Linked DNA regions of Homo sapiens. The protein of the gene in region 2 interacts with the protein of the main gene of each other region in a pairwise test. Each region holds a gene or a part of one and is shown on either strand. Other genes may lie near its edges.

The links. Proteins that work in one complex are often made in the same cells at the same time.
Region 1: the proteins of CEP83 (region 2) and CLIP3 interact in binary tests that used the Homo sapiens proteins (3 or more experiments, as listed by UniProt).

The regions. Positions count from the first base shown.
Region 1 is NC_000019.10:36,015,874-36,022,899, forward strand, and holds part of CLIP3 (CAP-Gly domain-containing linker protein 3), read right to left. Parts: intron 3,512-7,026; exon of another isoform or gene 3,434-3,511; coding exon 3,298-3,433; intron 3,154-3,297; coding exon 3,025-3,153; intron 2,119-3,024; coding exon 1,975-2,118; intron 1,906-1,974; coding exon 1,782-1,905; intron 1,578-1,781; coding exon 1,513-1,577; intron 1,107-1,512; coding exon 1,034-1,106; exon of another isoform or gene 939-1,033; intron 340-938; coding exon 285-339; 3' UTR 1-284. UniProt on the Homo sapiens protein: Functions as a cytoplasmic linker protein. Involved in TGN-endosome dynamics. May modulate the cellular compartmentalization of AKT kinase family and promote its cell membrane localization, thereby playing a role in glucose transport in adipocytes.
Region 2 is NC_000012.12:94,449,850-94,456,875, forward strand, and holds part of CEP83 (centrosomal protein of 83 kDa), read right to left. Parts: intron 1-7,026. UniProt on the Homo sapiens protein: Component of the distal appendage region of the centriole involved in the initiation of primary cilium assembly.

The DNA.
Region 1 (7,026 bases), on a different chromosome or scaffold from region 2:
ATGGAAATCTGTTAATCTGGGAATCTGCTCTGAGGGGTTGGGGATAGGGACTAGCCTGAAGGTGCTACTCAGGGAATCTCTTTCTGGGTGACATGGGGTCTGTATTTGGGGGTTATTATGGGAGTATCTGTTAATAATGGGGCCTCAATGATCGAGGGCTGGCTAACAGGGGTCTCTACTCTGGATGTGTTACTGGGAATCTCTATCTCAGGGTGACTCAGGGCTCCTCGGGTGTCAGGAGATGCTAGTGGGGACTCTGTCTCTTTGTCAGGTGTCCAGGGCCTCTAAGACTGCATCTCCGCCCTCAGCATCCAGGGGAACCAGCAGCAGAACAGCAACCTGGAAAGGAGGATGACAGGGTCACGCCCTTAGGCAGGCAGCGGGGACATCTGCACCCATCACCCCCAGCCTTTCCCCCAGTGTTTGCTATCAGGCCTTTCTGGATTCTGCCTCTACCTCTCTGGCTGTGGTTTGTTTGTTTGTTTGTTTTCTGAGATGGAGTCTCACTCTGTCACCCAGGCTGGAGTGCCATGGCACGATCTCGGCTCACTGCAACCTCTGCCTCCCAGGTTCAAGCAATTCTCCTGTCTCAGCCTCCCGAGTAGCTGGGACTACAGGTGTATGCCATTGTGTCCGGCTAACTTTTGTGTTTTTGGTAGAGACGGGGTTTCACCATGTTGGCCAGGCTGGTCTTGAACTCCTGACCTCAGGTGATCCGCCTGCCTTGGCCTCCCAAAGTGCTGGGATTAAAGGCATGAGCCACCCCGCCCGGTCTCTAGCTGTTGTTCTGAGGCTCGTATGGAGTGAAGGGTGTTCTGCTTCCTTTACCGGCCCACCCGAAAGTGGAATTCACTAGAATTCAGTGCGGGGCCCTACACCCTAAAGACTGTTTCTGGGTATGCTTACAAGTCACAAGTTTTCCTAACCTCTCTTTCCAGCCCTGACCAGAGCTCCAGACCTCTGGGTCCAACTGCCTTATGGATCCCTCTCCCTGAATGTCACATAGGAGAGGGGACAGGGGTTGGCCACACACCTGGAAATGGAGTTCTCTGATGCAATGTCCTTTGGGGTCCGGACTGTGGTGAAGGTGCGTTTGGGCTGCGTCACTGAAGAGGAGGGCAGGATGTCAAGTGAGGGGATGACAGACCACCTGTGTCCTCAATACCCATCCAGACCCCTTCTCATTAATACCTCCCCATGTCTCCAGTCCCCACCTGGATCCTACATTCCCAATACCCATCTGGGCCTCTTGTCCATAATTCCCACCATGTCCCCCAGTGACTATCCCTGTCCCCAGTATCTGCTCAACCTCATGTCCCCGAAGAGCCTTGTTGCTAATTTCCTCATATCCTCTAGCACCTATCTTTTTGTGGACCTTGTCTCATCATTTTCCTGGACCCTGTGTCCCCAATTAAATACCAGAGACTGTCACCAGTATATACCTGAGAACCCATGACCCTTCCTCCCATCCCCAAACGTACACTCCTCCCAACATATCATCCCCTAACTCACTTGTCACTTGATGCACTTTTTTGGCTCCAACGCTGTCCCCGGGGGAATCAGTGGATCCGCCAATCCTGAGGAGACACGGGGAGGGGGAGAAGTCAGAGCCACAAAAGGCCAGGGTCTGACTGAGAGCTGGGCCCCAGGGATCTATGAGGAAAGGGCTGGGGGCTCGGGGGTGTCCACACTGTCCTGCTGGTCTGGGAGGAGGAGGCCATCTGAGGGGGGATCAGGGCTCCAGGTGGTGCCCTGGGTTTGGGCTGGAAGTTTGGGCTCACCTCTGAATACGGGATGCTGGTGCGAAGACCCCATGCCTCGGGGGGCAAGTGAAGTACCGGACACCGAAGACAGAGCCATCATGCTTGCCTGTGGGCTGGTCCAGCTCAATGCCATACCAGTAACCTGCAGCACGAGGGTGTCAGGATTTCTCAAGGCCCTGCCTGCCTCCCGGCCCAGAGTCCCCATCCTCACCTGGGGCAAAGTCTGTCTTCCCGTAGAAGCGCACGATCCCCTGCTTCTGGCCCGCGACAAGGACCTGGTCTCCAACCTCAGCCTTGGCCCCGTCACGCTGCTGCAAGCTGCCCAGAGATGGGGATGATGGGGTCTTCTTCTTGCCTAAGGGTAGAAGGTGTAGGAGGTGGGTAGTGGGGCTGAGGCCAGCTTTGGGAACCTCGTGCCACCTGGAAAACCCCAAGGTAGAAAACCCTGTTCTTCGTTTGAAGTGAAACTGAATCCCAGATGCCAGAGAATTAGGAAGGGGCTTTAGGCCTGAAGGGAAACTGAGTCAGAGAACCTGAAGAACCCCAAAATCCTTTCTCAAAGCTGAGGATATGTTGGATAAGGAAAAGCTGAGTCAGAAGTCAGGAACCCAGAAACTGTCCTTTTAAAATGAAGGGAAAATTGGGTCCGAGAGTAAATCAGGCCATGTGCAGTGGCGCAGGCCTGTAATCCCAACATTTTGAGAGGCCGAGGCGGGCAGATCACTTGAGGTCAGGAGTTTGAGACCAGCCTGGCCAACATGGCAAAACCCTGTCTCTACAGAAAAAAATACAAACATTAGCCAGATGTGGTGGTGGGCACCTGTAATCCCAGCTACTCGGGAGGCTGAGGCACGAGAATTGCTTGAACCCGGGAGGCGGAGGTTGCGGTGAGCCAAGATCGTGCCACCACGCTCCAGCCTGGGCAACAAGGCGAGACTCTTGACTCAAAAAAAAAAAAAAAAAAAAGTAGATCAAATGACAAAAGACAGGATCTCCAAGGATTCTTCCCTAAAACTGGGGGAGACCTTTGGGTCTGAGAGGAAACTAAGTCACAGAGGGCAGGGAACCCACAGGTCCTTCTAAGAACTAGGGGGTGCCAGTACTGAGCCAAAGGGGAAACTGAGTCACAGAAGTCAGGAACTCAGAGCTTGTCTTCCAAAACTGGAGTTTGGGCCTGAGGAGAAACTGAGTCACAGAAGCTGAGCTACCCACACAACATCCCCAAACTGGCTCTTCCCACCACAGGGATCCCCTCTCTGACCTTTGTGTTCCCTGCGGCCTTTGCCGGTGACACGGGAGAAGTCCATCCGGGGGGTCCGGGGTGTGGAGGTGACAGAGGAGGGGGGTGCGTCCACTGCCTTGGAGATCTTGGACACGGAGGCAAAGAGACCTAGGGGTACAGAATCCGAGCCTGGTGTTGTCCAAGCCTCTGCCCTCGGCCCCCATCCTCCATCCCCTATTTCCCAGTCAGCAGCATCAGAACTGCCGAGTGGACACCCAGCCACACCCCTCTTGGGCCCGAGGTCGGACTAACCCTGCTTGGGAGGGCAGATGAAGTACCGAACGCCCCCAACGCTGCCATCGTTCTTGCCCTCAGGTTCGTCCAGCTCCACGCCCACCCACTGGCCGCTGGCAAACTCCGTGGTCCCACAGAACCGCAGTGTGCCCGTCTGGGGAGAGAAGGGAGGCGATGGCTAAGGAAGGAATGCTGGGAGGCCAACGTGGAGTGCCCACACACGGGCAGCAAGGTGGGTTGCATGAGGCCGCCCTGGGCCCAAACCCCAGGTCACACATCACCATTTGCTGGCTACATGACTTAACCTCTGTGTGCCTCAACTTCCTTTGCTGTGAAATGGGAACAGAAATTATACTCACCTTATAGGATTGTTAAAGAGTTGCCCTGTCTCATATAGTGAATAGTGACTAGCCACATAGGACAATGTAAATTTATTTATTTATTTATTTTATTTATTTTTTTTTTTTTCGAGACAGCGTCTCACTCTGTTGCCAGGCTCGAGTGCAGTGGCACGATCTCGGCTCACTGCAAATTCCACTTCCTGGGTTCAAGCAATTCTCCCATCTCAGCCTCCCAAGTAGCTGGGACTACAGGTGCATGCCACCACGCCTGGCTAATTTTTGTATTTTTAGTAGAGACGGGGCTTCGCCATGTTGGCCAGGCTGGTCTCGAATTCCTGACCTCAGGTGATCCACCCGCCTCGGCCTCCCAAAGTGCTGGGATCACAGGCATGAGCCACCATGCCTGGCCAACAATTTAAATTTAAACTAAGGCCGGGTGTGGTGGCTCATGCCTATAATCCCAACACTTTGGGATGCCAAGGCTGGAGGATCACTTGAGGCCAGGAGTTTCAGACCAGCCTGGGTGAAAATGGCGAGACCCTCTAATCTTAATCTGTTCCAAAAAACAAAGACAGCAAGACCCTATTCTCTATAAAAGAAAGAAAAAAGGTAACCAGGTGCAGTAGCTCAAGCCTGTTGTCCCAGTTACTTGGGAGGCTGAGGTGGGAGGATCGCTTGAGCCCAGGAGTTCAAGGGTGCAGTGAGCTATGATGGTGCCACTGCACTCCAGCCTGGGCAACAAGCAAGACCCTGTCTCAAAAATAAATAAATACATACCTTAGAAAGAAGACTCAGATGATTTTTAAATTTAAAAATAAATAAATTTAGTCCGGGCGCGGTGGCTCACACCTATAATCCTAGCACTCTGGGAGGCCGAGGTGGGAGGATCACCTGAGGTCAGGAGTTCAAGACCAGCCTGGCCAACATGGTGAAACCCCCATCTCTACTAAAAATACAAAAATTAACCAGGCATGATGGTGCACGCCTGTAATCCCAGCTACTCGGGAGGCTGAGGCAGGAGAATTGCTTGAACCCAGGAGGGTTGCAGTGAGCCCAGATAGCACCACTGCACTCCAGCCTGAGCAACAGAGCAAGACTCTGTCTCAAGAAAAAATATAAATAAATAAAAATACAAATCAATACATTTAAACTAAATTAAAAATGCATTTCCCCAGTCACACTAGCCATATTTCAAGTGCTCAATTGTCACATGTAGCTTGTAGCTACTTTACTGGACAGCACAGACAGAATATTTCCACCATTACAGAAAGCTCTGTTGGACAGGGCTGTTATAGAGAAATTAAAGCCCTCAGAACAGGGCTTGGTATTAAGTAAAGGATCAGCAAGTATTCGTTATTGAAATTTTTTTTCTATTTTAGAGACAGGGTCTCACTCTGTGGCCCAGGCTGGAGTGCAGTGGTGCAATCATAGCTCAGTGTAACCTTGAACTCCTGGGTTCAAGCAATCTTCCCTCCTCAGTCTCCCGAGTAGCTGGGACTACAGGTGAACGCCACCAAAGCCTGGCTAATTAAAACAACAACAACAACAACAAACTTTTGTTAAAAATAGAAATGGAGTATCCCTATGTTGCCCAGGTTAGTTTCAAACTCCTGGCCTCAAGCGATCCTCCCCATCTTGGCCTCCCAAAGTGCTGGGATTACAGGTGTGAAGCCACTGTGCTCAGCCTGTTAGCTATTATCATGCTGTAACTTTGGTCAGGGGACTTATTGAGCCTCAGTTTCATCTGTAAAATAGAGATAGTAAGCCACCTCATGGAGTGATCATCTGGCGGAAACTTTTTTTTTTTTTAGACAGGGTCTCACTTTGTTGCCCATGCCAGGGGTGCAGTGGCACGACCCTGGCACAGTGCAGCCTCAAACTCCTGGGCACAAGTGATCCTCTCACTTCAGCCTCCCAAGTAGCTAGGACTACAGGTGTGCGCCACCATGCCTGATTAATTTTTTCATTATTAGTAGAGATGAGGTCTCACCATGTTGATTGCCCAGGCTGGTCTTGAACTCCTGGGCTCAAGCGATCCTCTCACTTCAGCCTCCCAAGTAGCTAGGACTATAGGTGTGTGCCACCATGCCTGGTTAATTTTTTCATTTTTAGTAGAGATGAGGTCTCACTATGTTGCCCAGGCTGGTCTCGAATTCCTGGGCTCAAGCGATCCTTCTGCCTCAGCCTCCCAAAGTGCTGGGATTACAGGCATGAGCCACCACATTTGGCGGAAACATTTTTAACACATGTAAACTTGCTTAGCTGCAGTGAGACTTTAGTGAGTGTGGTTATTATCATTATGGGAGGCTCATTCACCTCTCCATGCCTCAGTTCCTGGTCCATATAATAGGCTAATTAATTAGTGCTGATCTTTTTTTATTTTTATTTATTTATTTTTTTTTGGAGACGGAGTCTCACACTTTGGCCCAGGCTGGAGTGCAGTGGCATGATCTTGGCTCACTGCAAGCTCCGCCTCCTGGGTTCATGCCATTCTCCTGCCTCAGCCTCCTGAGTAGCTGGGACTACAGGCACCTGCCACCATGCCTGGCTAATTTTTTGTATTTTTTTTGTAGAGACGAGGTTTCACCGGGTTAGCCAGGATGGTCTCGATCTCCTGACCTCGTGATCCGCCCACCTCTGCCTCCCAAAGTGCTGGGATTACAGGCGTGAGGCACCGCGCCCCGACAATTAGTGCTGATCTTAAGAGTGTTGGTGGAGGGACTAGAACAGTGCCTGGCACACACAAAGAGCATTTAGTATGCGCTGGACTCTGTTCTAATGGCCTTACGCATTTTAATTAATTTAAACCTCAACCAGCCCCCTAAGGTGGTTACTATTATTATCTCCATTTACGGATGAAGACATTGACACCCAAAGAGGCAGAATCACTGGCTCCAGGTCCACAGGTGGGAAGTTGCAAAGCTGAGATTTACCTGGGCAAGTCCCTGAGCCTGAGTTCATGACGCTGTGCTATGCTGCTTCTCTAAGGGGCAGTGATTAGTATTCCGTGTCTTCAGATAAAGGTTTTCACCTGTTGGAGCCTCTTATAGTCTGGCTTGTAAAATGGGAAGAGTCAACCCAACCTTCCTTCTGAATTGTGCAATGGATATGATTAGATCGTGCACAGCAGAATGCTTTCTGGATGGGGCCGGGCGCAGTGGCTTATGCCTGTAATCCCAGCACTTTGGGAGCCAAGGCGGGCGAATCGCTTGAGGGCAGGAGTTTGAGACCAGCCTGGCCAATATGGTGAAACCCGTTGCTACTAAAAATAAAAATAAAAGGCCAGGCGCGGTGGCTCACGCCTGTAATCCCAGCACTTTGGGAGGCTGAGGCGGGCGGATCACGAGGTCAGGAGATCAAGACCATCCTGGCTAACACAGTGACACCCTCTCTCTACTAAAAATAC
Region 2 (7,026 bases):
AGGGTGGGTTTAATCTCCAACAATCAATTAATATATAGCATACTAACAATAAAAATCATATAACCATATCATCAGATGCAGGAAAAAACATGACAAAATCTAACACCCACTCATGATTAAAAACTTGCAACAAACTAGGAACATAAGGGAGCTTCCTTAACCTTCTTCAAAGGGCATCTATAGAAAATCTACAGCTAACATTATACCTGATGGCAAAAATCTGCATGTTTTCCCCCTAAGACTGGGAGTAATGCAATGCACATTCAACACTTCTCTTCAACATCTTACTGGAGGGTCTAACCCAAGAATTAAAGCAAAAATGAAGAAATAAATAACATTGAGATTGGAAAGAAAAAGTATCGTTTTGAGACATGATCATCTATGTACAAACAATATGCAAAAATTGGTTGCATTTTTTTTTAGACAGATTCTCGCTCTGTCTTCTAGGCTGGAGTGCAGTGGCACAATCTCAGCTCACTGCAAGCTCCGCCTCCCGGGTTCACGCCATTCTCCTGCCTCAGCCTCCCGAGTAGCTGGGACTACAGGTGCCCGCCACCACTCCCAGCTAACTTTTTTGTATTTTTAGTAGAGACGGGGTTTCACCGTGTTAGCCAAGATGGTCTCGATCTCCTGACCTCGTGATCCACCTGCCTTGGATCCCAAAGTGCTGGGATTACAGGCGTGAGCCACCAAGCCTGGACGATTGCATTTTTTTGTGCTAACAATGAACAATTTGAAATCAAATCATGAAAACTCCATTTCCAAGAGCATCAAAATTATAACAGTCTTAGGAATAAATTTAACCAAATAAGTGCACGATTTGTACACTGAAAAGTAAAAAACATTATTAAGAGAAATGAAAGATCTAAGTAAATGGAGAGATATTACATGTTCATGGATTGGAAGACTCAAGATGGTTAAGTTAGTGATTCTTCCCATATTGATGGATAGATTCAATGCAAATCCTACAAACATCAGATGTGTTTTTGTAGAAATTAACAAGCTGATCCTAAATTGTATATGGAAATGGAAAGAGCATAGAACCAATTTTGAAAAAGAAGAAAATGTTACACTACTTATTTTGAAACTTACTATAAAACTGCAGTAATCAAGACAGAATAGTGTTGGAGTAAGGATAGGTTTATAGACATGAGTCTTGGAATAAATTCTTACATTATAGTCAACTGATATTTTACAAAGATGCCAATACAATTGAAGGGAAAAGAACAGTCTTTTTAACAAATGGTACTGGATAATTTGGCATTCACATTTTTAAAAAATGAACTTAGATCCTCTTCTTACATCAAATGCACGGTTAATTCAATATGAATCTTATATTTAAAGGAAAGAGCTCAAAGAAGACCTTTGGGAGCTCAAAGAAAAATCTTTGGGACCTTGGATTAGGCAAAAAGTTCGTATACATAACATGAAAGTACGTGCCACACACACAAAAGAAATGACTTCATTAAAAACTTTTGCACTTCAAAAGACAACAGTAAAAATATGAAAAGCCAAGACACCAACTGGGAGAAATATTTGCAAATCTTATCTCTGATATTAAAAACAATACAAACTTTCATCCAGCATATATAAAGAACTCTTACAACTCAGTAAGACCAAAAAAAAAAAAAAAAAAACCCAGCTAAAAAATGGGCAAATGCCTTAAACAGATATTCCACCAAATGGCCAATAACCACAGAAAAAGGTGTCCAACATTACTGTGCAGGGAAATGCAAATTAAAATTACAATGGGATACTACTAGATACTAACTAGAATGGCTATAATTAAAAAGATAATACCAACTGTTGGTGAGGATGTGGAGAAACTGGAATCATCATACATTGCTGGTAGGATGTAATTGGTACAGCTACTTTGGAAAACATTTTGACAGTTTCTTTAAAAGTTAAAAATAAGCTTACCATATAATTCAACAATTCCACTCCTAGGAATTTACCCAAAACAAATGAATACATATGCTCACACAAGGAATTACAGACAAATCTTCATAGCAGCATTATTCATAACAGCCAAAAACTGGAAACCATCCAATGTCTATCACCTAGTGAATGGGAAATACTATTCACTGGTTACCAGTAAATGGGAAATACTATTCACCAATACTATTCAACTGGTGAATGGAAAATACACACGAATACTATGCAACAATTAAAAAGAACAAAACATTGATATACATACATTAAATAAACCTCAAAAGCATGAAGTTAAAGAAGCCAGATGCAAAAGACTACTGTATTGATTCCATTTATATGAAATATGTAGAAAAGACAAATTTATAGTGATAGAAAGTAGATCAGTGGTTCTCTGGGGCTGTGGGAAGGAGTTACCTTAAATGCAAATAAGCTTGAGAGAATCTAGGAGACTGATAAAATGTCAGAAATTGCCTTGTGATGACAGTCGCACAACTCTATAAAGTTGCTAAAAACCATTAAATTGTACACTTACAATGAGTGGTTTTTATGGTAGGTAAAATATATCTCAATAAAGCTGTTTAAAAAGGGCTAGGTAGAAGAAAGAAGTTATCTCTTCCAAACTTTGGAAAATTTGTTGATAGTTGTAGTAATCAAGGCTGAGTTCAAAGGATGACCAAGCAAAAAGAATCCAGGTTCTTAAAGATTATCACTAAGCCACTTAATTGACAATCTTAGAACCACCTATCTCCAGACTTCTTACATGTGAGATAATACAATTTCCTTCTTAAGGCTTTAAAAAAGAAAAAGAAAAAAGAATAACGTTGCTAATTCTAAGGGACACAGGACATGTTCATTCCATTACAGAAAATTTGTAATATCATCCATAGAGGAAGATATCAAAGAAAAGGCAGGAATTTTGGTGGATCTTGAAGGATGAAAGAATATGACGGGGGATGGGGAAGGAAAAGAAGGGTATGTAGTTCAGAAGAGTCATTAATAATGGCAAGGATAAAAATCAACAATGCCCACTAAAAGTCAAGTTTACAGCTTACCTTATTTTAATCCATACATTAAGGACCAAAAAATTAAGTAACTGGTTCAAAAAGTTACGCAGCTAGTAATCTAACCTTCACTCTCAGGATCCAGGCTCCAAAGTACATACTCTTTCCTCTGTTACGCTGCTAAACAAGGACTTAAACTACCCCCATTTGCAAGTTCAGATCTTTGTAGAGGGCATCTTTATTTAGATAGGTTTACATTTATAGGACTACACACTCAATGTTTCTTGAGCAACAATTTCCATTTAATCAATAAACTAAATGTGATGTGCATTCTTTCTTTGGTTTCCAAAACGTTACCCTACTCTGGTTTTCCTACCTTCTTTCTCCCCCTTCCTATTACATGCTGGTGTTCACAAGCTCTCTTCTGATTCTACACAACTCTCACTAGGAACCTCATCTATACCTGGTATTTCAACTACCACTAACGTTGATGACTCTTCTCTCTCTCCAACTTCAAGAATTGTTTTCCTAGTTTTCTTTGACTAACTTCCTCCGGGCCAAGTTGAATACTGCTCTGTACACCCTACAACTACACTTACAAGATTCTAAAGAGACATTCCTCAATTTTTGTGTATTCTTTCTAGTTCTAGGCCAGGTATTCTTCCTACATGCCCCAAAACACATTCTTATCTATCCTTATAGCATTTAACATGCTTTATTACAAATTACTAATTACTTTGTCCATTTCTCCCATCAGAGAATAAGGTGCTTGAGACTTAGCACTATGTCTTATTCACAATCTCCCCAGTGCCTAGCATAGCATGAGACACATAATAGGCACTCAAATATTGATTAAACCCATATATAAGAGAAATAAAATTTGCTTTAAATTGGAAGCATACCATTTCTGAAGGAAACTTTCAGAGATTTATGTTTTCAAATGAGAAAATAGGCCATGAAAGGTGAAGTGACTCACCCAGTCAAGCCTTGGTCTCCTGAATCACAATTCTCTTCCCACAAAATTACAGTGCCTAGGCCGGGCGCAGTGGCTCACACCTGTAATCCCAGCACTTTGGGAGGCCAAGGCAGGTGGGTCATAAGGTCAGGAGATCAAGACCATCCTGGCTAACATAGTGAAATTCCGTCTCTCTTAAAAATCAAAAAATTAGCTGGGCATGGTTGCATGTGCCTGTAGTCCCAGCTACTTGGGAGGCTAAGGCAGGAGAATCGCTTGAACCCAGGAGGCAGAGGTTGCAGTGAGCTGAGATCACACCACTGCACTCTAGCCTGCTGACAGAGTAAGACTATGTCTCAAAAAAAAAAAAAAAAATTAGAGTACCTATTAAATTGTGCTTAGTGATCTCAGCTTTCTATGAAGCTCTAGAAGTAATACAAAAATGTTATAAAGAACCATTTCAACTTCATCCACTCCAGCTCTGGCTGGCTATATCAGTTGTAGAGAAGTCTGTTATTACATAATACTTTTTCTGCCCAGAATAATCTTTAATTGAACCAGTATTTTCACGTGTCCTTCACACAAAAAATAATTCAATACATACTTATTGAGACATGAAGCCAGCTGGGATTCTGGGTCCGGTGTGGACTTGGAGAACTTTTCTGTCTAGCTAAAGGATTGCAAATGCACCAATCAGCGCTCTGTGTCTAACTAAAGGTTTGTAAACGCACCAATCAGCACTCTGTAAAAACGGACCAATCAGCACTCTGTAAAATGGACCAATCAGCTCTCTGTAAAATGGACCAATTAGCAGGATGTGGGTGGGGCCAAATAAGGGAAGAAGAGCTAGGCACCTGAGCCAGCAGCAGCAACCCACACGGGTCCCCTTCCATGCCGTGGAAGCTCTGTTCTTTTGCTCTTCGCAATAAATCTTGCTGCTGCTCACTCTTTGGGTCCACACTGCCTTTATGAGCTGTAACACTCACCACGAAGGTCCGCAGCTTCACTCCTGAAGCCAGCGAGACCACGAACCCACCGGGAGGAATGAACAATGCCGGACGCGCCACCTTTAAGAGCTGTAACACTCACTGCGAAAGTCTGCAGCTTCACTCCTGAAGCCAGCAATACCACGAACCCACCGGGAGGAATGAACAACTCCGGACGCGCCACCTTTAAGAGCTGTAGCACTCACTGCAAAAGTCTGCAGCCTCACTCCTGAAGTCAGCAAGACCATGAACCCACCAGAAGGAAGAAACTCCGGACACATCTGAACATCTGAAGGAACAAACTCCGGACACACCATCTTTAAGAACTGCAACATTCACCACGAGGGTCCGCAGCTTCATTCTTGAAGTCAGCGAGACCAAGAACCCACCAGAATGAACCAATTCCGGACACATTATCATGCATCTCTATGTGGAAAACAATGTGAAAGAAGTTATAATTCATCAGTACTCTAAAAAATATCCTTAAGAGCATATATTGCATGCCCCTTAAGTTTAACAATATCTGAAATAGCTGCCTTAAAACAAAATGCAATCACACTTGAGAGAGGCTGAATATGAACATCAGAGATAGGCAATGCAACTTCATCAGGAAAATCCCTATAGTCCAATGCTACTGTTTTCAAGGGTTGCTATATTATACTGCAATTGTGTTACTGGGCAACAACTCAGAAGCTAGAATGGCAAATTCACTCAAGAAGTAACTGAATCAAACGAATATTTATGAAAGCATTCTGAGACTCAACTTCACTTTCTATATCTTCAACTGAAGTAACTCTTTGTTATAAGCATTAGATACAGGATTTTTGGTGAGACTGTAAAAACTACATGGACATTTTATAGACATATTTTGAGACAGAAGATAGGTGCTTTCCAAAAGGGAATGGCCAGGTTTAGGTTCCTACTAACTCTGAATTTTAATCCAAAAGCAATCTGAAGTCACAATATACAGAAGGCAAATAACTGGGCATTTCCTTAATTTCTTCCATCCTGGATTATAGCTCAGTTAAAAGAAATAGTAGGCCGGGCGCATTGGCTCACACCTACAATCCCAGCACTTTGGGAGGCCAAGGTGGGTGAATCACTTGAGGCCAGGAGTTCCGAGACCAGCCTGGCCAATGTGGTGAAACCCTGTCTCTATTCAAAATACAAAAAAAAAGCCAGGTGTGGTGGCATGCACCTGTTAGCCCCAGCCACTTGGGAGGCTGAGGCAGGAGAATCACGTGAACCCACGAGTTCAAGGTTGCAGTGAACAAAGATTGCACCACTACGCTCCAGCCTGGGCGACAGAGCAAAACTCCATCTCAAAAAAAAAAAAAAGAAAAAAGAAATAGTACTAGACTTGACAGTCAGTGATCTCTCCATGACCTAGAGAGGGCAGTCCTGATGAAAAAAATATAATTAATAAACTGATATTCTACTAGGAACCAGGAAATTGACCAAACTCCCCAAGCCCACTGAAGAATAGTGCCAGCATTCCTGAGAGTCCTTACTGCTGGTATTGCCATGGGAAATTCTCAAATACTCACTTTCTAGGAACAGAATCTTTATTTCTGATTCCGTGAATTCCCACTCTTCAATCTTTTTTATAGTTTACTGTTGCCATTTCCCCTTCACTTACTCTCTTCTCTCAACAACCTTACTTTCATGATACTTACAAAAGTGGGGGAAAGTAGAAATGCCTATCTGTCATTGTATTAGTCCATTTTCATATTGCTATAAAGAACTGCCTGAGATTGGGTAATTTATAAAGGAAAGAGGTTTAATTGATTCACAGTTCCACATGGCTGGAGAGGCGTCAGAAAACTTACAATCATGGCAGAAGGTGAAGGGGAAGCAAGGCACCTTCTTCACAAGGTAGCAGGAAGGAGAATGAATGCAGGAGGAACTACCAAACACTTATAAAACCACCAGATCTCATGAGAACTCACTGTCACGAGGAACAGTATGGGGGAAACCGCCGCCATGATCCAATTCCCTCCACCTGGTCTCTTCCCTGACACATGGGGATTATGGGGATTATAATTCAAGGTGAGATTTGGGTGGGGACACAAAGCCTAATCATATCAGTCATCTTTAAGAAACATTTATTCAGCAACTTGTATTTGGAAAAGACTAAGGATACAGCTCATCG